7 linked regions of the Homo sapiens genome follow. The protein of the gene in region 2 purifies or fractionates together with the protein of the main gene of each other region. This does not show direct contact. Each region holds a gene or a part of one and is shown on either strand. Other genes may lie near its edges.

What was found.
Region 1: the proteins of NPHP4 (region 2) and TEFM purify together in Homo sapiens (affinity purification with mass spectrometry, with the first as the bait; one large-scale study listed by BioGRID). This does not show direct contact.
Region 3: the proteins of NPHP4 (region 2) and COPB2 purify together in Homo sapiens (co-immunoprecipitation; one large-scale study listed by IntAct). This does not show direct contact.
Region 4: the proteins of NPHP4 (region 2) and LATS1 purify together in Homo sapiens (affinity purification with western blotting; one study listed by BioGRID). This does not show direct contact.
Region 5: the proteins of NPHP4 (region 2) and ECD purify together in Homo sapiens (co-immunoprecipitation; one large-scale study listed by IntAct). This does not show direct contact.
Region 6: the proteins of NPHP4 (region 2) and DNAJA3 purify together in Homo sapiens (co-immunoprecipitation; one large-scale study listed by IntAct). This does not show direct contact.
Region 7: the proteins of NPHP4 (region 2) and GSE1 purify together in Homo sapiens (co-immunoprecipitation; one large-scale study listed by IntAct). This does not show direct contact.

What each region holds. Positions count from the first base shown.
Region 1 is NC_000017.11:30,898,486-30,900,862, reverse strand, and holds the end of TEFM (transcription elongation factor, mitochondrial), read left to right. Parts: intron 1-300; coding exon 301-450; intron 451-1,256; coding exon 1,257-1,694; 3' UTR 1,695-1,877; downstream 1,878-2,377. UniProt on the Homo sapiens protein: Transcription elongation factor which increases mitochondrial RNA polymerase processivity. Regulates transcription of the mitochondrial genome, including genes important for the oxidative phosphorylation machinery.
Region 2 is NC_000001.11:5,982,426-5,985,925, reverse strand, and holds part of NPHP4 (nephrocystin-4), read left to right. Parts: intron 1-3,500. UniProt on the Homo sapiens protein: Involved in the organization of apical junctions; the function is proposed to implicate a NPHP1-4-8 module. Does not seem to be strictly required for ciliogenesis. Required for building functional cilia.
Region 3 is NC_000003.12:139,362,148-139,365,647, forward strand, and holds part of COPB2 (coatomer subunit beta'), read right to left. Parts: intron 371-3,500; coding exon 260-370; intron 1-259. UniProt on the Homo sapiens protein: The coatomer is a cytosolic protein complex that binds to dilysine motifs and reversibly associates with Golgi non-clathrin-coated vesicles, which further mediate biosynthetic protein transport from the ER, via the Golgi up to the trans Golgi network.
Region 4 is NC_000006.12:149,708,102-149,711,601, reverse strand, and holds part of LATS1 (serine/threonine-protein kinase LATS1), read left to right. Parts: intron 1-3,500. UniProt on the Homo sapiens protein: Negative regulator of YAP1 in the Hippo signaling pathway that plays a pivotal role in organ size control and tumor suppression by restricting proliferation and promoting apoptosis.
Region 5 is NC_000010.11:73,137,009-73,140,508, forward strand, and holds part of ECD (protein ecdysoneless homolog), read right to left. Parts: intron 2,730-3,500; coding exon 2,623-2,729; intron 2,488-2,622; coding exon 2,301-2,487; intron 1,063-2,300; coding exon 995-1,062; intron 1-994. UniProt on the Homo sapiens protein: Regulator of p53/TP53 stability and function. Inhibits MDM2-mediated degradation of p53/TP53 possibly by cooperating in part with TXNIP. May be involved transcriptional regulation. In vitro has intrinsic transactivation activity enhanced by EP300.
Region 6 is NC_000016.10:4,453,368-4,456,867, forward strand, and holds the end of DNAJA3 (dnaJ homolog subfamily A member 3, mitochondrial), read left to right. Parts: intron 1-1,443; coding exon 1,444-1,547; 3' UTR 1,548-1,560; exon of another isoform or gene 1,561-1,561; intron 1,562-2,178; coding exon of another isoform or gene 2,179-2,201; 3' UTR 2,202-3,408; downstream 3,409-3,500. UniProt on the Homo sapiens protein: Modulates apoptotic signal transduction or effector structures within the mitochondrial matrix. Affect cytochrome C release from the mitochondria and caspase 3 activation, but not caspase 8 activation.
Region 7 is NC_000016.10:85,651,322-85,654,821, forward strand, and holds part of GSE1 (genetic suppressor element 1), read left to right. Parts: intron 1-2,956; coding exon 2,957-3,129; intron 3,130-3,472; coding exon 3,473-3,500.

The sequences.
Region 1 (2,377 bases), on a different chromosome or scaffold from region 2:
AGGTCAAGGCAGGTGGATCATGAGATCAGGAGATCGAGACTATCCTGGCTAACACAGTAAAACCCCATCTCTACTAAAAAAAAAAATAAAAAAATTAGCCGGGCGTGGTGGCGGGCGCCTGTAGTCCCAGCTAGTCGGGAGGCTGAGGCAGGAGAATGGCATGAACCCAGAAGGTGGAGCTTGTAGTGAGTTGAGATCGCGCCACTGCACTCCAGCCTGGGAGACAGAGCGAGACTCCGTCTCAAAAAAAGAAAAAACTAAAATGTTTATACTTCTAATTAAATCAGTCTTTTCTTTTAGGCAGTTAATAGTATCATATCTATCGTTTTTGGTACTCGAAGAATTGCCTGGGCTCACCTTGATCGTAAGTTGACAGTGCTGGACTGGCAGCAAAGTGACCGTTGGAGTTTAATGAGAGGAATATACTCATCATCAGTCTATTTAGAAGAGGTAAGGCAGTTGCACCTCCAGATTCCTACCTGCTAGAGCTCCTTGTGTAGTTTAATCTTCTGGTCCCAAAAGGAATGTAATAAAATAGTAAAGATGGGTTTTCTTCTGGTACTTGTTACTCACTTATTCCTATTATGTTTTCCATCACCTTTGATTTTTAAAAATTCAACCTTTAGTTAGTTCAAGAAATGCCTTATGCATCGAAGGCAGATACTGAGAAAATCAATGGTATTTCATTCTAAATGTTATAGAACATTATCACTCTTTTATTTATAAAGCTTATTTTTCAAAATGCCATCACATTGTCTCATTTGAGTTTTCAAAACCTTGCGAAATGGTCAGGAATTATCACCTTAATGGTCAGGAATTACCACCTTGATTATACATATGAAATCTGTGGTTCAGTCAAGCATCTGATGTGATTAGTCAGTTGCAGAGGTGATTGATTCTTGCTAGTTATTCTAACCGTATGCTCTATCCCAGAAAATGTTTGAAGGTTTAGTAAAACAGTTTTAAGTTGTCTAACCTTAAAGCCAATACATATTTTAGAAATTATGAAGTCCACTGTACAGATCAAGAAACTGGTACTTAGGAGGACTAAACAGCTTAGCTTAGCTGTTGTTGTGACATAACCATGACCAGAACCAGACTGCTCATAAAATGGCTTTTTCAGTTATTTCAAAATTGTCAATATAGTATAAATTAACTAATTATAATATTTTTAAATAGAAGTGGGACAGAGAGGGGACCAAACATAAAATGTAATGAATTATTTCTGTTCCTTTATTTTGTCTTTTTTTAAAAAGATTTCCTCGATCATTTCAAAGATGCCTAAAGCAGATTTCTATGTTCTGGAAAAAACAGGACTTTCCATTCAGAACTCATCTCTGTTTCCAATACTGTTACATTTTCATATCATGGAAGCCATGCTGTATGCCTTATTAAATAAAACTTTTGCCCAGGATGGGCAGCATCAGGTGCTGAGCATGAATCGAAATGCAGTGGGGAAGCATTTTGAACTGATGATTGGTGACTCCCGGACTAGTGGAAAAGAGCTAGTGAAGCAGTTTCTCTTCGATTCTATACTGAAGGCGGATCCTCGGGTGTTCTTCCCATCAGATAAAATAGTTCACTACAGACAGATGTTTTTATCTACTGAACTACAAAGAGTAGAAGAGCTTTATGATTCATTATTACAAGCTATTGCCTTCTATGAATTAGCAGTGTTTGACTCTCAGCCTTAGAATTCTGAGGTTAACGTGCTAAAGTATAATTATTAGCTCTAACGTAACACCAACTGTTGTGAACATCCATGTTATTGGAAAAGAACACATTTTCAGTGTATTTTAGATGTTTAAATTCTGACTTTTGGCTATTAAATGGTTTACACAATAAGCCAAGACCAAATCAATAAACATTTTATGAGATTCTGTGCCTCTCAGGTTAATGTGTTAAACAGTAACATGGGGCTTGGTGCAGTGGCTTATGCCGATAATCCCAGCACTGTGGGAGGCTGAGGCAGGAGGACTGCTTGTGCCCAGGAGCTCAAGAGCAGCCTGGGCAACATAGCAAGACCACATAATTTTTAAACATTTTTCATTAAAAAAAAGAAACAGTAAGATGCCAAATTGACAAAACAAGAAACAAAGTTATCTCCCTTTAAAAGCAAATACTATCTATACTAAACATTTGCATTATTATCATATTGTTAAAATAGGGAATAATGGTTTTCCTAGGTGGTACTTATTATAAGAATAAAGCTGGCCACGCATGGTGGCTCACGCCTGTAATCCCAGCACTTTGGGAGGCTGAGGCGGGTGGATCACCTGAAGTCAGGAGTTTTGAGACTGGCCTGACCAAAGTGGAGAAACCCTGTCTCTACTAAAAAAAAAATACAGAATTAGCCGGGTGTGGTGGCGCATGCCTG
Region 2 (3,500 bases):
CCCAGTTGTAGGAACATGCAAGTGTTCTGACCATGTTGAAGCTGGGCCACGCTAAGCTCTGATGTACAGTAGGTTAAGGGTATTAAATGCATTTGAACTTATGACATTTTCAACTTAAACAGGATAGAGTCCCATCATAGGTCAAAGAGCATCTGTATTGATTTTCACTTACTCGTTTGAGTCTTATACCACCATACCCATTACCTTGGGCCTTGGCAGTATTCGGATGCAAAGTGGCCCATCAGCAAAGAGAATCTATGATTCAATGACATGGTCAGCACTTTTGACTCTGGGTAGGGTTTCTTTCTGCCCACAGTGGAGCAATTTAAAAACCCAAGTACTCTGATTTCCTGGGTTATTTGTGAGCCAGGTGGCCTTGTGCATGGCTCAGCATGGCCCGCTTTCAGCCTGGCAGTGAGGACTGCAGGGGCTGAGCTACGGGCATTCTGGCAGCTCTGTGCGTGGCTGGATGTACCACGGCCTTGGGCACACTCAGGCCCAGGCCCTGATGGCGGCACATCCATCTGTGCCCTTCAGCTGGCGGGGAACCTGCTGGACAAGCTGGTGCTTCTGTGCTGCTGCCCACGGGACACCCACACGATTGGATTGTCCTCGTGAGGCCCAGTGGCCGGTGGGAATGCGTGAGAAGGATCAGTCTTGCCATTGTCAACCCTTTTTACAGGATTTGGCTTGGCAAGGCCGTTTTCCTCTGCAGCTGGGAGAGTGATATTCACATATATTCAGTTGTTGGAGCCCCGGGTCTGTGACTAATTTACTATTATTAAATCACTGATGTTCTATATCGTTCAATTCCAAGCCCTTGGATTGAGCACCTGCTGTGTCTTTGCCACTGTGGTAGGTACTGTGGTGGCTGCTGCTTTTGTAGCTTTACTTCTAGCACTTCACTGTGTTCATTCACTTAATCCTCAGAGCAGCTCTATGAGGCTGCCACCACCTTACTCCCGTTTTATAGACGAGCAGCAGCACCTGCTAATTAAGAGTGAAGCCAGCTGCCCAGGGCGACGGCTTTAGCTGGGATGCCACCCTCCTGGTCTGGCTCAGCCGCCTTCCAGAAGCTCACAGGATAGTTGATAGCCCTTCCCTCTTTCCTAGGAGTTTTGCAAAGGAAATTTTATTTCCCCATTTCATTTTATTTTTATTTGTGAAAAGGTAATGCACGTAGTTCAAAGTTGACAAGGATGCAGAGGAAAAGTGAATCATCCCATGGCATCCCCAGGCACCTGGTGTATCACCCTAGATACAGTGTGTTTTCGTACAACTTTCTTAAATTCTAAGCAAATACAAGTAAATATACCTACATTTATTTTTCCTTTTTAAAATGCAAATGGTACTTCCTGTATTCCGTTCTGTACCATTCTTTCTTTTTTTTTGAGATGAAGTCTCACTCTGTCACCCAGGCTGTAGTGCAGTGGTGTGATCTCAGCTCACTGTAAACCTCCTCCCCCTGAGCTCAAGTGATCCTCCTTCCTCAGCCTCCCAAGTAGCTGGGACCACAGATGTGCGCCACCATGCCCGGCTAAGTTTTTGTATTTTTGGTAGAGTCGGGGTTTCACCATGTTGGCCAGGCTGGTTTCAAACTCCTGAGCTCAGGTGATCTGCCCGCCTCTACCTCCCAAAGTGCTGGGATTACAGGTGTAGCCACATGCCCGGCACTGTACCTTGCTTTTCAAAAAAATTCAGGCAGTATGTCTTATCGATCATTCATGTTATTACATGAAGAAAATTTTATTGTTCTTAAGACCGCAAGGTGTTTCTTTATATGAATGAGCCATCATTTATTGAGTGAGGCCGTGATTGATGAACATTTAGACTTTTCCCAGTCATTTGCTATTATAGGCACTGCTACAGTGAATAACCTCATTTTTTTCATGTACAGATATGTCTGTAGAATAATTCCTAGAAGTGGAATTCCTGATCCAAAGTCGTATGTTAAAAGTTATTTAAAACCCAATTACATGTTGTTTACAAAAAAGTGCACTCTAAGCATAAAGACGTAAACAGGTTGCAGGTAGAAGGGTGGAAAAATATAAACCATGTACATACTAAGCAAAGAAAGCTTTGCATCTATACTAGTATCAGAAAAAGTAGATTTCAAGGTGAAGAGTATTCCCAGAAATAAAGGGGCACCTCATAAAGACAGTGATCATCAAGGAAACGTAACAATCTCTAAATGTGTATGCACTTGTGTTAGGGGCCTCCAAGACCACCTCCCAGGTTTGAAGAGTCTCTAAGAGGACTCACATGACTCAGCATGTAGTCATACTCTCAGCTAAGGTTGATCCAGCAGAAGGATACAGAGCAAGATCAGCAAAGGGAGGAGGCATATGGGGGATGTCTGAGGGAAGAGGGTACAAGCTTCCAAGAGTCCTCTCTCAGTTGAGTCACACAGGATGCGTTTGATTCCTCCAGCAATGAATTGTAACAACACACGTGAAATGTTGTGTAGCATGTCCAAAATTCCAGACTCTCAGAAGGGAAACACGTGTTTAGCATAAGCCACAGTACATAAACAGTTTAGGCACAGTGAGCTCCTCTTACCAGTTAGGTGGTAGGAACTCTCTTGAAATCTAAGTTCCCAGACTCCAGCAAAAGGGCAGACTTCTAAGCTGGTCTTTCAAAGCATAACAGTAAGGTCTGTTCTGATAACTCTTTTGTACAAAAGAGCAAAATTGGACAGAACTAAAGGGAACTATATTCAGATTCATAATCATGGTTGGAGACTTTTAACTCTTCTTCTCTCAATTATTGAAAAAACAGATAGATCAGAACACTCATAGGGATTTGGAAGCTCTGAAGAATACCGTCAATCACCTTGTCATCTCTTAACGCTACTCCCAAGAAAGCTAGAGTACACATTCTTCCCAAGTGTACCATCAATCACCCTGTCATCTCTTAAACACCACTCCCAACAAAGCTAGAGAACACGTTCTTCCCAAGTTCATATGGAACAGTCACCAAGATAGACCGTATGCTGGGCCATTAAAATGTCCCAATAAGCTTCAAAGGACCCAAATTATAGAGTATGTTTATCGACTACTGTGCTTTTAAGTTAGAAATAAATAATATGAGATCTAGAAAATCCTCAAATAGGAAATTAACATACTGGATCAAAGAAGAATTAATAGGGAAATTAGAAAATAATTTGAACTGAGTAATGGAAGAAAATATACAGATTTATAGGATATAACTAATACAGTTCTTTGAGGGAAATGTATAGCTTTACATGACTATATTAGAAAAGAAGAAGGTATAAAATCAGTGACGTCTGTTTCCTCCTTAACAACCTAAATAAAGGAACAAATTAGATACAAACCTAAATAAAGGAACAAATTAGATACAAAGTAACTAGAAGGAAGGAAATGGTAAATACAGTTATGCATGGTTCCTTGACAGTGCCGACACATTCTGAGAAATGGTGTTAGGTGATTTTGTCATTGTGCAAACATCATAGGATGTACTTACGTAAACCTAGAGGGTAG
Region 3 (3,500 bases), on a different chromosome or scaffold from region 2:
AGAGCTCACATAAGATATGAAAACAATTTTTCTTAAAACAAATTAGAGTGCTAAGAATATCTCCAATGTAATCAATTTAACTTATGCAAAGTTTAACATAATACATCTTTTAAAAAGATAAGAGAGAGACAATAACTTCAACAAAATGAGCCACTAATTTGCATTTGGGAAAACTTTAATAACAAAACATTACACCAAACACATAGAAGTACCTACTGACTTTTCCATCAGTTATGAAAAATCATGAATTAGTACATACCTCTGCTTCCACTGCTAACTGGTATGCAATTTTTAACTCTCCAAGCTGAAGAGCAAGCTCAAAACGATGCTCAGGATCTGTGGATACTGTAAGAGCTTGCTGCTTGAAGCCCTAAACAGATTTTTAAAAATTATATATATTTATGCATACAAAAATGTATGTATGTTTTATATATATATATATACACACACATATACAGTGTACACACATTCACAGAGCAAATCATTTCCCTCTCAAACTAGAAACCCCACTATTTAATAAGAAGATGGAATAATTAAGGAGTCATTAAAGGAAGTGGTAAGAACAAACCTGGCAGATAAAATATTCAGTGACAGAATTCTTACTGTTTATTAGGATAATGGAAGCTGGCTAATGTTAAACTCAAGTAACCAGTAAAACTGGAAATGTAAATATAAACAGATATGTCAAAAAGAAAGGAATTTTGCAAAGTTGACTAAACAAGAATCATTTCAAAAGAAGAAAACTAGGCACAGCAGTGTAAACTTAGCTGTTGGTAATCTACTCAACTAGGCTGGGAAGTAGAGATCATCTAGTCCAACCCCTCATTTTGCAGATGAGACTATTAGCAGTAAATGGCCAAAGAAACGGGAGTCAAATATAAAACCTTCCAACTTTCTGTCATCTGTAGGTCATAGCAAACATTGTGTATTCAGGTCCAGTCACCAATTAGGTGTCATTACCTATTCCTTTATTGTTGGTCTCAAGTCCAGTTCCTCAGCAAGTATCCAAAAGACAGGAAGTCTAAAATTTCCTTCCCATGCTCCATTAAGGCATTAAGAACAAGCTTTTAAACCAGGGGTCTCCCAAACAACCAGTCTGTGGCCTGTTAGGAATCAGGCCGCACAGCAGAGGGTGAGCAGTGGGTGGGTGGGTGAGTGAGCATTACCGCCTAAACTCCGCCTGTAACGGCATTAGATTCTCATAGGAGCATGAACCCTATTGTGAACTGTACATGTGATGGATCTAGGTTCTGTGCTCTTTATGAGACTCTTAATGCCTGACGATCTGAGGTGGAACAGTTTCATCCTGAAATGTACCCCCTTCCCATCTGTGGAAAAATTGTCTATCTGCCACGAAACTGGTCCCTGGTGCCAAAAAGGTTGGGGACCACTGTTTTAAATCAACTATTGTAATTATTAAATTAGCTTCTCCTTCAAGACAAACACTACTGATGGGGTCATTTTTAGCTCTAGGGATGTAATGTGTTACACAAAAAGCTCAGGGATAGTTTACCTCTTCACCAGACTGAGGGAGAATGCTCATTTATGGGATAGTCAAGATTGAGAAGCTGGACAGCTTTAGGGTTCTGTCTGGCTATATCTTCAGGATGGCTTTATCATCAAGTTTGAAATGTTTTAACTTCTCAGCTTATACAGGCTGCCAACCCGCCCCGATCCATCCATGAATACGATGTAAATAAGGCATTCTAAATAACCGGAGTTACTTTTTTTCCACTAGCATTGATATAGATAACATAAAACCCAAGAGTGGAGGATGGAAGATCTCTGGAACTAGTCAGATACAGCCAAGGGCAAAACACATGAAATGAGGCGGACTAAAATATATACTTTTGTTTTCTGCTAATTCCCTACTACTAATAAAATCACACTAAAAGGATTTTTTTTTAAAGGCATAAGCTCCCAACGACACACAGAAAGGGAGAGGAAACAGTAACAAAAGTTTGGAAGCTGGAAAGCTGGTGGAGGAATATAAACATTTTGTTAAAACAGTAGAGAAAACAGATCCTAAATCAGGAGTGAGAACAGCATAGAAACAATGTGATTTACACCCAGTGTGTCTCATGAATGGTAGGGCTAAAAACAAACAAACTGCCCTAAAAGCATTCAGAAACTCTAGATCCGCTCCCCTCTCCCACCTCCCCTCTCTCACCTCCCCTCTCCCACCTCATGACAAAGAAGACAGGTTTATTCTTTGGAGAGGACAAACTAAAGAGTCTCCAGACCAGGAGATTCCAAGCACACTTGGAGGAAAAAGTACAGAGTATCAAAGGAAGACAGGAGATTATGAAAATGGATACACAGACTCAATGAAATATTAAATACTGAGACTCCAAGGTATCTTCTACTGAGACCCCAAAATGATGGTGACTGGGGAGCTTTTCAGTAAAATCTACTGAGCCCAAGGGAAAAGACTTAAAAATACTAAAATGTCAACTCCATGAAGGCTACATGTCAGCAGGAACAGTGCCTAGCACATTGTTAAGTGCTTGTTAAATTCATTACATAAATGGAAAGTCATCAAAAATTCATTGGCTAAAGATACTGACATTGAGACTCCCTAATCAAATGGGCCAACCACACCAGATATTGTGAAATCCAAACCCAATATGCCCCACCCACAAATTCAGACCTTCTGATCTGTTTCTTGTACCTTCACTCTTAAATGAGGGCCCAAGGACATCAGATACTTGAGGAAAATCACTAACAGCAAAGATGCAGATCAAAATGAAGCAATAAAAGGAACGTGAAGGAAGCATACCATATAGGGGGAAGAGAAAACTTCAAAATCTAAAAACAGAAATATATCATTCATATCTGTAGAAAGATACGAGAAACTTTTATCTATAAACAATAAGATTTTAAAAGAGAATAGGAAAATCAGTGCAGGACATACAACATGAACAATTCCAGAAAGACAGAATACAGAAAACGAAGGATATCACCATAGAACGATTCATGAAAATCCTTCAGAAATGTAGGACATAAGTTTCCCATTAAAAAAGCTCATCTAATAACTGGCAGAATTAATGAAAACTGATTCCTACCAAGGCCTACCATGATTATAACATTTCAGTACAACAGAGATGACATTCAGAAAGTTTCCACAGAGAAAAACCAGGTCATGTACTAAGAATGAGGAATAAAAATGGCTTTAGACTTCAACAATAACTACAAGGCAATGGAACAATGCCTTCAAAATTCTGAGAGAAAATTACCTCCAACAATTATATACCAGTTAAATGGTTGAATATGTTTTAGGGTAGAACAATGGCACTTTCAGATATTCAAAGTCACAAAACAATTTATCTCTCATTAACAATCCTTTTCTCAGGAAATTGCTGAAGGGCATGTTCCCCTAAAATGAGGGAGCAAAGCAGGAAAGGAGATAGGGGTATAAGAAACAATGGATCCAACAGGACAGAAGCAAAGGAAGCCCCAACATGATGGTGAGGGGAAATCCATGATGAGAGCAGGAAAAC
Region 4 (3,500 bases), on a different chromosome or scaffold from region 2:
GATTTTTTTAGTATGAACTTGAGATGATTTAAGAAAAAAAAATTTCATTTTGTTTTTTGAGATGGAGTCTCACCCTGTCACCCAGGCTAGAGTGCAGTGGCACAATCTCCGCTCACTGCAACCTCCGCCTCCCAGGTTCAAGCAATTCTTCTGCCTCAGCCTCCTGAGTAGCTGGGACTACAGGCACATGCCACCACGCCCAGCTAATTTTTGTATTTTTTAGTAGAGATGAGGTTTCACCTTATTGGCCAGGCTGGTCTCAAACTCCTGACCTCGTGATCCGCCTGTCTCGGCCTCCCAAAGTGCTGGAATTACAGGTGTGAGGCACCGTGCCCGGCCAAAAGATATTTTTTTTTTTTTTAACAAAACAGTTTCTTTAAAGTTAGTAAGCCTCTTCCGATCTGTTTGGTTTCCTTCAGTTCTATGTGTCAGTAACCACAGTCGAAGTTCACATGTATTGGTAAACTCATCCAAAGATTTAAGAGCGTCTATTCCTCCTCCTCTCATTTGGTTGTTTGAGGCTATTAGGTTTGATGGGAAGGCTACGTCTTTAATATGGTCTTAACCACAGAAGCACTAGTTAGCTAAGGGGTTTCAGTGGGCATCTGTGCTCAGTCTTTTAATCCTGCCTCTAGGGGTCTAGGTACAAGCTGCTTTTCCAATCCTTCAAGGCTTTAAATTTCTGAACTTTTTCTATTCTCTTCTGTTTTTGCTTTCAAATCTACTACTTCCTTCTTGAACTCATCATTTACTTATAATACTTGCCAAATATCTAATAGCAGCCAATACTCACTTCCAAAATCCTCTTTACCAAACTCCTATAACACTACAAGGTCAGTAGCCTCTTTGTATGTTCACTGACCTTGTAGTTGTATGAAAAGTTATTATAGGCAACAGCGTTACCAGATATTTTGCCACTATAAAACATGATCCTCCATCTTTCCAGCCTCCGGTATCTGTTTCCTCTCAGCCCTTAATCTGACCACTAAGGCAGTATCACTAAGGCAGGACTGCATAGGTTTTTATTGTAGCAGCACCTCACTTCCAGGTACCAGTTTTCTGTATTAGGATAATGAAACACTGAATATACAGATGGACAATGGCCAGATCATATATAAAACTAGAACTCTGACCCATGACCTATGTAGCAATAGGCCCAGTCAGGACTTGGTCAGTAATTACCAGCTTCCCTAATTTTTGTGCCTTCTTCCAATTCGGGACGACTCAGAGAAAGCCAAATATGCTTCCCAAATCAACCACATAGGATACCCCGCTTCCAGTGTCGACGAAGAGTCAAACTCTGTAAAATATTTTAAGAGATCTATTCTAAGCCAAATATGAATGGCTATTGCCCCATGACACAGCCCTCAGGAGCTCCTGAGAACATGTGCCCAAGGTGATCAGACTACAGCTTGGTTTTATACATTTTAGGGAGACATAAGACATCAATCAGTATATGTAAGATGTACATTGGTTAGGTCCAGAAAGGAAGACACCTTGAAGCAGATGGCTTCCAGGTCATAGGTAGATTCACAGATTTTCTGATTGGCAGTTGGTCGAAAGAGTTGTTACTGTCTAAAGACCTAGAATCAATAGAAGGGAGTATCTAGGTTAAGATAAGGGGTTGTGGGCAGGCACAGTGGCTCACGCCTGTAATCCCAACACCTTGGGAGGCCGAGGCAGGTGGATCACGAGGTCAGGAGTTCAAGACCAGCTTGGCCAACATAGTGAAACCCCATCTCTACTAAAAATACAAAAATTAGCGAGGCATGGTAGCGCACGCCTGTAATCCCAGCTACTCAGGAGGCTGAGGCAGGAGAATCACTTGAAACCGGGAGGCGGAGATTGTGGTGAGCCAAGATCAAGCCACTGCATTCCAACCTGGGCAACAGAGTGAGACTCCATCTAAAAAAAAAAAAAAAAAAAAAAAAAAGATAAGGGGTTGTGGAGACCAGGGTTCCCATTATGCAGATAGAATCAATAGGAAGGAATGTCTGAGCCAAGGTAAGGGGTTGTGGAGACCAAAGTTCCCATTATGTAAAGGAAGCCTCCAGGTGGCAGGCTTCAGAGATAATACATTGTAAATGTTTCTTATCAGGGTTGATTCTCTCCTGGATCAGGCAAAAGGCCTGAGAAAGGAAGGGAATTAACTTCAGAATGTAGATTTTCCGCACAAGAGACAGCTTTGCAGGACTGTTTGAAGATATGGCAAAGAAACATAATTTGGGGTCAAATACTTGGATTTCTTTCAGGGCCTGCCATCTGTCATGTGATACTATGCTAGAGTCAGGCTGGAATTGGGTATCTTATTGCTACAGAGAGTCTGTTTTGTCAGTCTTAAGATTTGTTTTAATGTTAGTGCTGGTCAGCTGTGCCTGAATTCCAACAGGGAGGAGGGAATAATGAGGTATGGCCAAACTCCGCTTCCCATCATGGCTGGAACTAGTTTTTCAGGTTAACTTTCAAATGCTCTTGGCTGGGAGGAGGGGTTCATTCAGATGGTTGAAGGACTTAGAATTTTATTTTTGGTTTACATCAGTTAGCCCACCTCCAGTTTCCCATGCCAACAACCTACAATCAGAGCATACCTGATGTCTTCCCCCTTTTTTTAGTATAAAGATTTCCCACTCCCCTGCTTGCCTTTGAATCTTTGCCAAGCACAAGTTGACAGTGGCTGACTCCCTACCTATATAGTAAGATCTAATTAAATAGCCTTTGTTTGTTTCCATTTGGGCAGTCTTTGTCTATTTTCACAATGTTATTAGGCTGTTTTGTGGTAACAAATCCCCAAATATCAATGGCTTAACACAACAGAAATGTTTCTCTTGCTCAGAGTTCAGTGGGAGTCAGTAGGGTTCTCCATCCAGTGGCTTAGGGATCCACCTTCCTTCCATATTGTCAAGCCACCATCTCAGAATGTAACCTACATTGTCATTAAAGCAGGAAAACCGAAGCAAAGTGACTTTTAACTGCCTCAGTCCAGAATTGAGATATGTTACATCTGCTCATCCAGCTTTGGCCAAATCTGGGAAATGGAGTCGAGTACTGTATGTGAATATAGTCTCTGCCAGAATATATTTACCAAAAGCAATTGGCTAAAGATATACACAATTCCTCCATTTCAGCGTTTTTGAGATCAGAAGATTTAGATTATCTTACAATTGAAATTTTTTTTTTTTTTTTTTTTGAGATCCAGTCTCGCTCTGTCGCCCAGGCTGGAGTGCAGTGGTGCAGTCTCGGCTCACTGCAACCTCTGCCTCTGTGGTTCAAGCGATTCTCCTGCCTCAGCCTTCCGAGTAGCTGGGACTACAGGTGCCTGCCACCACGCTCGGCTAATTTTTGTGTTTTTAGTAGAGACGGGGTTTCACCATATTGACCAGGGTGGTCTTGTACAATTAAAATTGAAATGAATATTCAAATGTAATGCTTCTGTTATTTCCCCTGATAAATGAAGTGACATTGTTTCATGGAAATAATAGTTTCTTTAAAATGAATCCTGT
Region 5 (3,500 bases), on a different chromosome or scaffold from region 2:
TAATTAGAATGTTACCCACAGAAAAAGACTAATACACACAGTCAGTCTACTTCACAAAAATCCCTTCTACAAATGGTAATGCTGGCAGATATGTGTGCATTTAATGTTGTGGAAAAGCGTACAAGCTGAATCAAAAGATTTAGCTTAAAAAAAAGTGAATTCAATTAATTAAAATATTTTTCTTAAAAAATTTTTAAAAATACCTAATAAATGAATACATTTTGATGTAAACATTCAAGCCATACAAGTATTGTCTCCAATCTCACTCTCTCCCCAGAGGTAAGCATCTTTTAGCAGTTTCCGGGTATCCCAATCTTTCTCTCTGCAGTTCTGTACATATATACATATTATAATTATTTTTTGAGTTATCTTTTTATTACTGATTTGTAAGTACAGTAATTCCAAAAAAGAACAATATAATATGGGAGCCAAGGTAAAACCCTATTTAAACACACAGCATTCAGTCACTCTCAAATATTTAATGAGGCCGGGCACGGTGGCTCACGCCTGTAATCCCAGCACTTTGGTAGGCTGAGATGGGCGGATCATGAGGTCAGGAGATCGAGACCATCCTGGCTAACACGGTGAAACCCCGTCTCTACTAAAAATACAAAAAAATTAGCTGGGTGTGGTGGCAGGCGCCTGTAGTCCCAGTTACTCAGGAGGCTGAGGCAGAAGAATGGCATGAACCCAGGAGGCGGAGCTTGCAGTGAGCCGAGATCGTGCCACTGCACTCCAGCCTGGGCAACAGAGCGAGACACTGTCTCAAAAAAAAAAAAAAAAAATTAATGAGCAGCTACTATATATGTCAAACACTAAGCTAGGCAGCCTCTACAAAATTATTCATGGGTAGTAATTCATGGTTGAAAGCAACTCAAACCAGGAAGAGAAAGCAAACATTTTGGCTTCTGAGATATCTCATAAACCAATGCTCTAGCAACAGCCATACTACTAACAGTTTCAAAATGAAAGTCAACATCACACCACTACTTACCTAAAATCTTATCAAAATAATTAAGAAAAGAATCTGCATCAAAAGTGATTGGAGCCTCAGAAGGTTCTCTGCAATATTAAAGGACAAAGACAATTAATTTATTCTAAATACAACTCTTTGAAACTTTTCTAAAGTGGTGCCATTCTTAGGAAAGCTACCAAAGATAGAATTTCTAAGGAGGCACAGCAAGAAAAGTTGTAGTTTAAGTTTTAAAAATCCTTGAGTTTACTGGCCTTGCAGGACAACAGAAATGGGAAAGTCTGATAAATGAAAAGTAAAAATTGCATCTTGTTTATGTACATTTAGCTTATGCTGATTTAGGGACCTACCCACTCTCTAGCCCCAATAAGATATCTAGCATTAGCAAAACCATTATTTATTTGAGTTAATTTAAATAAAGCCTGTTCTTTTAAGAACTAAAGCTTAAAAAATAAACAAGAACATATCTTCCCTTATCCCTGCTTTCTTAAAGAGAGAATACCAAATATAAATTTATATCTTTCATCAGGTTCAAGAGCATCAACACTAATAATGATATATTTGATACACAAGTAACAGTTTTTTTTGTTTTGTTTTTTTTTTGAGACGGAGTCTTGCTCTGTCACCCAGGCTGCGGTGCAGTGGCACGATCCCAGCTCACTGCAACCTCTGCCTTCCGGGGTCAAGCGATTCTCCTGCCTCAGCCTTTCAAGTAGCTGGGATTATAGGCGTGCGCCACCATACCCGGCTAATTTTTGTATTTTTAGTAGAGATAGGGTTTCACCATGCTGGCCAGGCTGGTTTTGAACTCCTGACTTCGTGATCTGCCTGCCTCGGTCTCCCAAAGTACTGGGATTACAGGCATGAGCCACCGCGCCCAGCCTACAAGTAATAATTCTATCTACCTGTTTTTCCTGTTATTTGCCAAATGTAGTTTCATATTTCTGTTATTATTTCTGCCTCTGATGAATTCCTTTTTCAGTATCCAATCTGCTTGCAGGGTGGGAGATCAGAGGTCTGAACTTGTTGAAAGTTAAATGTTGAGCCCATAAAGCTACTAAAGAGTAAAGTATATGGTTTCCCTGTGTGGTTCTGGATGATGGTTTTTAGGGTGATCTTTCTGGCTTATTTCAAGGATTGCAAAGGATGAGGCTTCTAGAAATCTGACTTCAAATAAGTAAGTTATCACTATACTAGGCACAAAAAAGAAAGCAAGCAGTACAACTCATTTACTCAAAAAAAAAAAAAAAAAGTGGAAATGGCAATGACTATGACTTCAACATTTGGGTTCTAGCTATTTATATATTTATACTTTAACACAAATTACCGAGGCAGCTCTGCTCCCTTGTGGGTTGAGACTTTGGATATGAAAGCTTTCATGCTCTCTGAGACTTCAGTTAAGTCATAGTTCTGCTCCTTCTCCTCCTTGGAAACAGACTCGGATTCTTTTTTGCCAACAGCTTCCTGCAGCAGCTGGTCCAGCTGATCTGGTGAGAGATCTAACCACTGGTCATCTGAAAAAGAAGAAAGCATAATACTGCCATTCTACATTCACATAAGTCCTCTTAGGAGAGGATCCTGTGAGACTGAGTAGAACATTTTAATTTTTTTTTTTTAACCCTTCCACTGTATCCTGGTCCATCACTTACCATCCTCTGGGGGAAGATTAGCTGCTTCTTTCTTAAGGTCTTCTATATCAAATGGTATTGTCTGTAATAAGGTTAAGATTTCTTCACCAGGGCTCATAGCAAGAGAACTATGAAAAATAAAAAACATGAGTATTTCTTCATAAGAGAACATAGAATAGTAATCATAAATACATAGTATTTTAAGGTTGGAAGGGATTAGCTAGTCTAATTTGGGGAGTGTTTTTTTTTTTTTTTTTTAAGAGATGGGGTTTCATTGTTGCCCAGAATGGACTCGAACTCCTGGGTTCAAATGATCCTCCCACTTCATCCTCCCAAGTAGCCAGCACTACAAGTACATGCCAAAACACCTGGCTCTAATTTGTTTGTTTGTTTTTAACAGAGTTTCACTCTGTCGCCCAGGCTGGTGTGCAGTGGCGCGACCTCGGCTCACCACAACCTCCGCCTCCCAGGTTGAAGAGATTCTCCTGCCTCAACCTCCCAAGTAGCTGAGACTACAGGCATGCGCCACCACACCCAGCTAATTTTTGTATTTTTAGTAAAGATGGGGTTTCACCATATTGGCCAGGTTGGTCTCGAACTCCTGACCTCATAATCCCCCTGCCTTGGCCTCCCAAAGTGCTGGGATTACAGACATGAGCCACCGCACCCAGCCTTCTAATTTGTTTTTAAGCATATTTTTAGGTTGCAGATCCCTTTTTCTCAAACAAAACTTTTACCAGGAACTCTAAAATACAGAAGGGGTCAAAGAAAAATGGCCTTCATTAAAGTGGAGGATAGGCCAGGCACAGTGGCTCATGCCTGTAATCCCAGCACTTTGGGAGGCCAAGGCGGGGAGATCACTTGAGGTCAGGAGTTCACTTGGCCAACATGGTGAAACC
Region 6 (3,500 bases), on a different chromosome or scaffold from region 2:
CTGGGGGGGCTTGCAATTACTATGTGACTTTTTGAGTGAGAGACACAGTATGGCTCCTTGTTGTTCTTTTTTTTTTTTTCTTTTTTTGGAGACGGAGTCTCACTCTGTCACCCGGGCCGGAGTGCAGTGGCGTGATCTCGGCTCACTGCAACGCACTCTGCCTCTTGGGTTCAACCAATTCTGCCTCAGCCTCCCGAGTAGCTGGGACTACAGGTGCATGCCGCCCCTGGCTAATTTTTTGTATTTTAGTAGAGATGGGTTTCACCATGTTCGAGGCCGGTCTCGAACTCCTGAGCTCAGGCAATCCGCCTGCCTTGGCCTCCCAAAGTGCGGGGATTACAGGCGTGAGCCACTGTGCCCGGCCTTTTCTTTTTTGAGACTGGGTCTCACTCTGTTTTATGTAGCCTCCCTCACCCCTTCCCGGGGACCTGTGGCCCCAAACTTTGGACCTTTCACTAGCGAAGGCACCTTCTTACTTAGACTGAGGCCTTTACTCTTTTATGCACTGTGCGTGGCCTAGGTCTCTGAGCACATTAAAAATGAGCTCTACAATTAACATGCCAAGTTCAGGTCTATATTCTAACTCACAACAAAAGTGTGCACTCCTTGTCTAGTAGTTGGCAAATCTGTAACACGTTTGTGTGAGAAAGTACCTCTAGATGGTGTCAGCCTGGGCCCTAAAGAAATTGCAGCACAGCTTCCCTAGGTTGAGAGCATTTAGGTTAGGTGCCCCAAATGGGGACAACTTGCTCAGGGAGATAGACTGCTGATGTGAGGGATGAGATGGAGTGCCTGTGACAAAGGATTGTGCGTGGCCGTGACTCCCACATGGGCTGTTCTGCAGGGTCTTTGCGCACACAGCAGCATGGAATCTGGCCAGTTGGTCTAGAGTAGGGTTTTTCTTGGCAGTCATTATTTACCTTCTTATAGCCAACAGCATGGTGGTTGAGTCTCAGCTTTGGAGTCAGACTGCATGGGCTCGCACTCAGTCCTCCCTCCCGCTTGTTGGCTCTGTGGCCTTGGGTAAACCCTGTAACCTCTCTGTGCCTCCTTTTTTTGTTTTTTCATCTGTGAAATTTGCCTGTAAGGAAGTGTATGGCCTGGCCTGGGAGGTGCCTGGCACTTGACTGTGTTTTTGTCACTGTTGCTCAGATAGAGACAGCTGTCATAGTCCGTCTCTATTTCTTGTTTCCCTGCTGTGGGTCCTTGATTGAAAGAGCAGTTGGGAGACCCTCAGGCTCTGAGTGGCCTGTTCACCTCAGTCGTCTGCAAGGTGAGGCATCCTGTGCCATCTTAGGAGTGGCCCCCACTCTTCTTGAGGTGGCACTTGGCCGCTTCTTGAACGTGGGCCCCTGGGTGGCCAGGCGGGGGTAGGTGGGCCCTGGGATGTGACTGTGGAAGTGCAGGCCCATGACGCCAGTTCTTTCTGCTGTTTGTGCCCAGGTGGCAGCACCATGGATAGCTCCGCAGGAAGCAAGGCTAGGCGTGAGGCTGGGGAGGACGAGGAGGGATTCCTTTCCAAACTTAAGAAAATGTTTACCTCATGATATCCCAGCCGAGGTAGGAAAACCCTGGAGGTTTTTTTTCCCTTTGTTTTCCTCTGTGAACTAATCCTGGTTTTCTCCCACTTTAACCAATATTGTGCCCCCACCCCCAGGAGTTGGAACAGGTGCCAGTCCAAGGTGTGGTAAACCTAGCTCCACTAGGAGCTGGCCTCTCAGCCTAGGGAATAGATGACGTGGCAATCAGCCTGTAGTGCAGGACTGGCTGGGCTGCCGCGGCCAGCCTCTGGCTGTGTCTTCTTCCTGGGGAGGTGGCGATGCTGGGGCTGTTGTACAGCCCCCCTGCAGTGGTGGGTCCGGCTTGCCCATGGTCACAGAGGGCGAGTCAGGCAGAGCCAGGCCTAGAACTCAGATCTCCTCACGTCCTGCCTGCTTGGAAGCTGCCCTCCTGCGTGGACAGCGCAGGGCTGTGCAAGCCTGGGGGCTGCTCCAGGGGTAGCGCTTGCTCGCCGTGTCATCTTGGGACCCACTTTGGTTTATTATGCTCATCTCAGCAAGTGGGGTTCTCGCCCCTCTCTTGGCACAGCTGCTTTCCAGGGATTAACAGACGCTCCCCACAGGGGTGTGTTCCCTTGAAATGTTGAGTATAAGGTAACAGCCTATCTCTTTGGCTCAGGAAAAAGATCCACTGGAAACTAGGCCGGGAAGCAGCAGCCCCTCCAAGGGCCAGGGCACCTGGGAGACGGGAGGATTCCAGAACAGCAGCACTGAGCTCCCACCCGCAGAGCCTCTGGACGGCCTTGGCAACAGCAAAATCATGGGACAACACCTCTCTCCACGGAAAGGTCACAGTGGACAGCCCGGGCAGTAGGATGCAGCCCCAGAGGCTGGTGGCAGTTTCCTGTCCATTGGTAGGTGACGGCCCCTGGCTCAGGCAGAGGGAGATGGTTAGACTCTTGCAGGGCTAAAACTCTAATTTGGAATTGAATATTGTGGATATCTTAGTTAAAGGCCATGCTTACAGCTTAGAAATGAAGCCTTAAGCTGCATCAAGTTACGAAGTGATTAATTTCCTTCTCAGCAAACCTCCGGGAGGTTCCAGAATGAGTTCTTCCTGACAGGTTGTCTTCACTGGGAGCGTGGGGCCCCCAGGCCCCACCAGCACCGTCCTCCCCTAATGAGGGGCCCTGCCGAGGCATCAGCTGCTCTGCTCAGTTAGTTTTTATTCCCGGGGTACCAAGCAGCTGCACAGTCGGTGCCTGGGAGGCACGTAGAGGCCCAGAGAGTCCCTGGGGGTTCTGCTCTGACCGTGTGGGTGGTGATCCTTGTCAGGATGTACAGTCCTTGCTCCCACCCCATCCGGGATGGCCGCCTGTCCCTGACTATTGAGTCCTGTTGTTGTAAGCCAGGCATGGAGGGCTCCTGCCCTTCTGCTGAGCCACAGCCCATTGCAGCACTGTGCTGGCCAGACTTCAGCTGCCTTGGGAACTGAAGCCCTGCCACTGTTGCTAGTCAGGGGCTTGGTTCTCCCACTTACACTGTTGACATCTATTTTCTGAAGTGTGTTTAAATTATTCAGTGCTAATCATTGTTTTTTCCTTTGTAAATGTTGATTCAGAAAAGGAAAGCACAGGCTAAGCAGTTGAAGGTTCCCCACCATTCAGTGAGAGCAGAACCCCCATTCCCCAGCCTCTGCTGGTAGCATGTCGCAGTTTCCATGTGTTTCAGGATCTTCGGGCTGTCGTTAGACAGGTTAATGAAGAACACTTCTCAACAGTTTCCTTTTTGTTTTCCTTTATAATTCACTAAAATAAAGCATCTATTAGTGTCTGATTTAGGAATGTAAAATGATTCTGTATTAATGTAAATAAGATTATCTATTGCAAAAAGATATTTCAAACCTAAATTGTGGTCATTTCTTCTTTGAAAGAATTCAGACAGCCTCTGCAGGTGGCTTATGGGGGTTACAGGAGACTTGGCTGGCCTCATCCTGTGCTC
Region 7 (3,500 bases), on a different chromosome or scaffold from region 2:
CAGGGTTGGCCGGGCGCCAGCCAGACGGAAGCCACAGACATGTGGGTCTGGCTCGCCGGGCCCCTGCCCCGCCTGCTGGCTGCCCCCCAGCCCCCCGGACTCCCTGTTTGTCCTCAGCCAGGCCAGGAAGGTGCCATCTGGCCTGCGAGCAGGGCTTTGTCCTCGGCTGAGGGGAGAAGGGGTTCAAGGGCCGTGTCTGGGCTGGGGACAGGCCCCTCCTTGTGGCGGGGCGGCTGGGGCCCTGTGCTTTGCCGTTTGACCCGGCCCACGGCGCGGGCAGCATGCGGAGGAGGGCGGCAGGCCTGGGCTGTTGGTAGTTTGACCCTGGGTGCTGTCCTCAGGTCGAGGTCTGTCCTCCAGCCCTCTTCTGACTCTGGCCACCCAAGGCTGGGTGATGATTGAAGCCCCTGGCTGTCGTCTCCCTCCTGCCCTGGAGGCCTCCCCACCAGCCTGGGAGGGGGAGTCCAGGTACCCCGGGTGCCTGAGCAGGCGAGGCCCCTGTTCTGGGCATCCAGAGACCCACTAGCTTTAGGCCTGGTGTTCATTGGGGTGCTACTTGGATGCTGGGGGGCCAGGGGCCACTCCGTCTTGTTAAGTCCATCCCAGACCCTAGGAACAGGGTGTGTCCTTCCTCGTGCTCCGTTCCTCAGATGTTTGGCCCTATGCCAGGCAGGGTAGGGGCGTGAGGCAGGATCTAGAAGCCCAGCCTGGAAATAGCCTCACGGGGCTGGGGTAGGCAGGCCAGCCTGGCAACACACCTGCCATGTCCGGGCCCCCACCCTGCTGGTGCGTCCCCCACATGCCCGTGCACAGCTGTGCCATCAACTCTGCTGCCCTGTGAGTCCCCCGCATGCCCGTTCATAGCCGTGCCATCAACTCTGCTGTCCTCTGAGCAGGTGCCGTGACGGGCACATGCCATTGATGTGTGCACGAGGCACGACAGGATGGCCAGGTCTCCCAAGGTCAGGTTGGCCCCTCGGCCACTCCCCCACTACCCCGGTTGCTGACACCGGCTGGAGACCCCAAGGCCAGGCGCTGGCTCCTCAATAGGAAGTTCCCGGCCCCACGCAGGGCGTCAGTGCCCATGTGTACCTCCCACCCTCGAGACCAGCACCCTGGAGAGGCAGGTCAGAAGTCGTGAACCCAGGAGGACCCTACAGAGAAGGGGGGCCGGGGCTCAGCCCGCGGGAAGGGAGCAGATGCTGCCTCTCATTGAAGATTCCAGGCGGCGGCGGCGGCGGCGGCTCCTCCAGTTAATCCTCGCTGACTGTCTCCTGGAGGGTGGAGAGAGGGGAGGCGCCGGCCCGGGCTGCCTGCACTGCCTCTGCGCGGGTGCCATGTGCTGCTGCCGGGTCACCGTCTGCCGCTATGAAGATGGATGGGCCCAGGAAGAGGGGCTGGCGGGTCAGGGACACAGGCACGGCCCCTGGGAGACAGATGCTTCTCCACGGTGGGGCAGGTCTCAGAGCCCCTGGGCCATCATTCCTGCTGATCTTGTGGGGAGACGGCCATGGCCTCCTTGTTTTTTGGGTGTTTGGCATTTCGTGGCTCAGGGAGGCAGAGCGGGGCTGGTGCTCTTCAGGAGCACTGCCCGCTGATCAGCAGTCGTTACCTGACATGGCCAGATGGAACGTGAGGAAGGGCCGGGTTCCCGTGGCTCTGCATCCCTGGGAAGCTCAGAGGGGCCAGCGTGGCCATGGCTCTCAGACACCCCCAGGTCAGGGTAGGCCTGGGCAGTGCTGTCCCCACATGGGGAAGATGCTGGGGCTGAGAACGGCTGCCCCAGTGACAGAGTGACGCCTGGGTTGGCAGCCATCCAGAGTCCAGAGCACAGCCCCCATCTGGGCCGCCCTGAGGCTCCCTCCGCCCCCCTCCTCCCCCCTCCTCCCCCCTCCCCCTCCTCCTCCTCCTCCCCCCTCCTCCTCCTCCTCCTCCTACCCCCTCCTCCTCCTCCTCCTCCTCCTACCCCCTCCTCCTCCTCCTACCCCCTCCTCCTCCTCCTCCCACTTAGTCACACGAATAACAGGAACAAGCAAGGCCTTTTCATGCTCTGGTTTCTCCGGGCTGGACCCTGCGTGTGTGCGGGGCAGCCTCTGCGTGGCTAGGGGTGGCACGGCCTATCCTTGAACTTGGCAGGGACCTCAGCCCGGAAGGTGGGCTTTGGGCCACTGCCTCCTCCTGCTTTGTGCCTGGAGAAGACCCCTCATCTGAGTCCTCTGGACCACCTTCCCAGCTACACCCAGGTCCACTGTGTCCAGGAGCCTGGGACAGGCGAGCTGTTGCCTTCCCTGCCCCACCGTGTGTGTGAAGGCCGGTACCCCAGCTGGCCAGTCAGGGCCCAGCTGCTGCCTGTTCTGGTGGGCTCCAGGGCCAGGGCCACCCCAGGAGGTGGTTGGGGGCAGACCAGCACCTTCGGCCCAGGGGCAGTGCCAGCTTCCTTTGCCCCTGCCCTCCACGTGGGCACCAGGGCCAGGACATCTGCGGCCAGGTGGGCAGCTGTCGGCGCAGTTGACGTCTTGGCTACATCGTGGCACTCGCTTCACGGCGTGCTGGGTGCCAACGGTGTCTGCTTCCCCGGGTGTGTGTCTGGTGTGACCTTCGGATGTCCACACCAGGAGGGGTGGAGGCAGGAGCCCCTGCCACCCTGCATCCTTCACCTGCACACATTGTGTTTCTGGGGGGTTCTAGTTCTTTTGCTGGACTGAGGAGGCCCAGGGAGGGAGACGGATCCCGAGACGCACTTCACCCCAGACCTGTCGCAGCCACATCCCCTTTCTTACGGTTCTGCTTCCCACACCACATGCACCATGTTTTGCGTAGAAAGCCTTAGGGAAAGGATGTTTCTAGAACATGAACTAAATCTAGCGCCTTCCCGTGAGTCAGGAGACCTGGCTGTGTCCTGTGGTCAGTGGCCTATACCAGGCTCCTGCCCTGACTGGACGCTCTCCTCCCGCAGGATGCCGGCTCCAGGAGCAGCAGTGGAGGTCGGGAACGCCTCATTGTGGAGCCCCCGCTCCCTCAGGAGAAGGCAGGGGGACCAGCCATCCCCTCGCACCTGCTCAGCACCCCCTACCCCTTCGGCCTCTCCCCCAGCTCAGTTGTGCAGGATTCCCGCTTCCCGCCACTCAAGTAAGTTGGTCGGCGGGGACTTCGGTGAGGTGGCCAGGTGGGGACACAGTGCTCAGGGTCTGGGTCCCCAGGCAGCCTGCGGTCTGCACAGATGAGGCTGTGCCTGCTAGATGGTTGTCGGCCGCTGAGCCCTGGGGATTGCAGCCCTGTCTGTGCCCCTTCACACTGAGGTGGCAGTGGCAGCTCGCTCCCCCCGCTGCTTAAGCCCCGTCCTCGTTCGGGGTGCCAGGAGTCTGGGTGCCGACTGAGCGCCAGGGGTGATGCAGGGAGTTTAGCCGTCCCCCCATGCAGGAGCAGGTGTGCACTCACCTGTCCCCACCTTGCCCACTATCCCCGCCTGCAGCCTCCAGCGGCCCGTGCACCACGTGGTG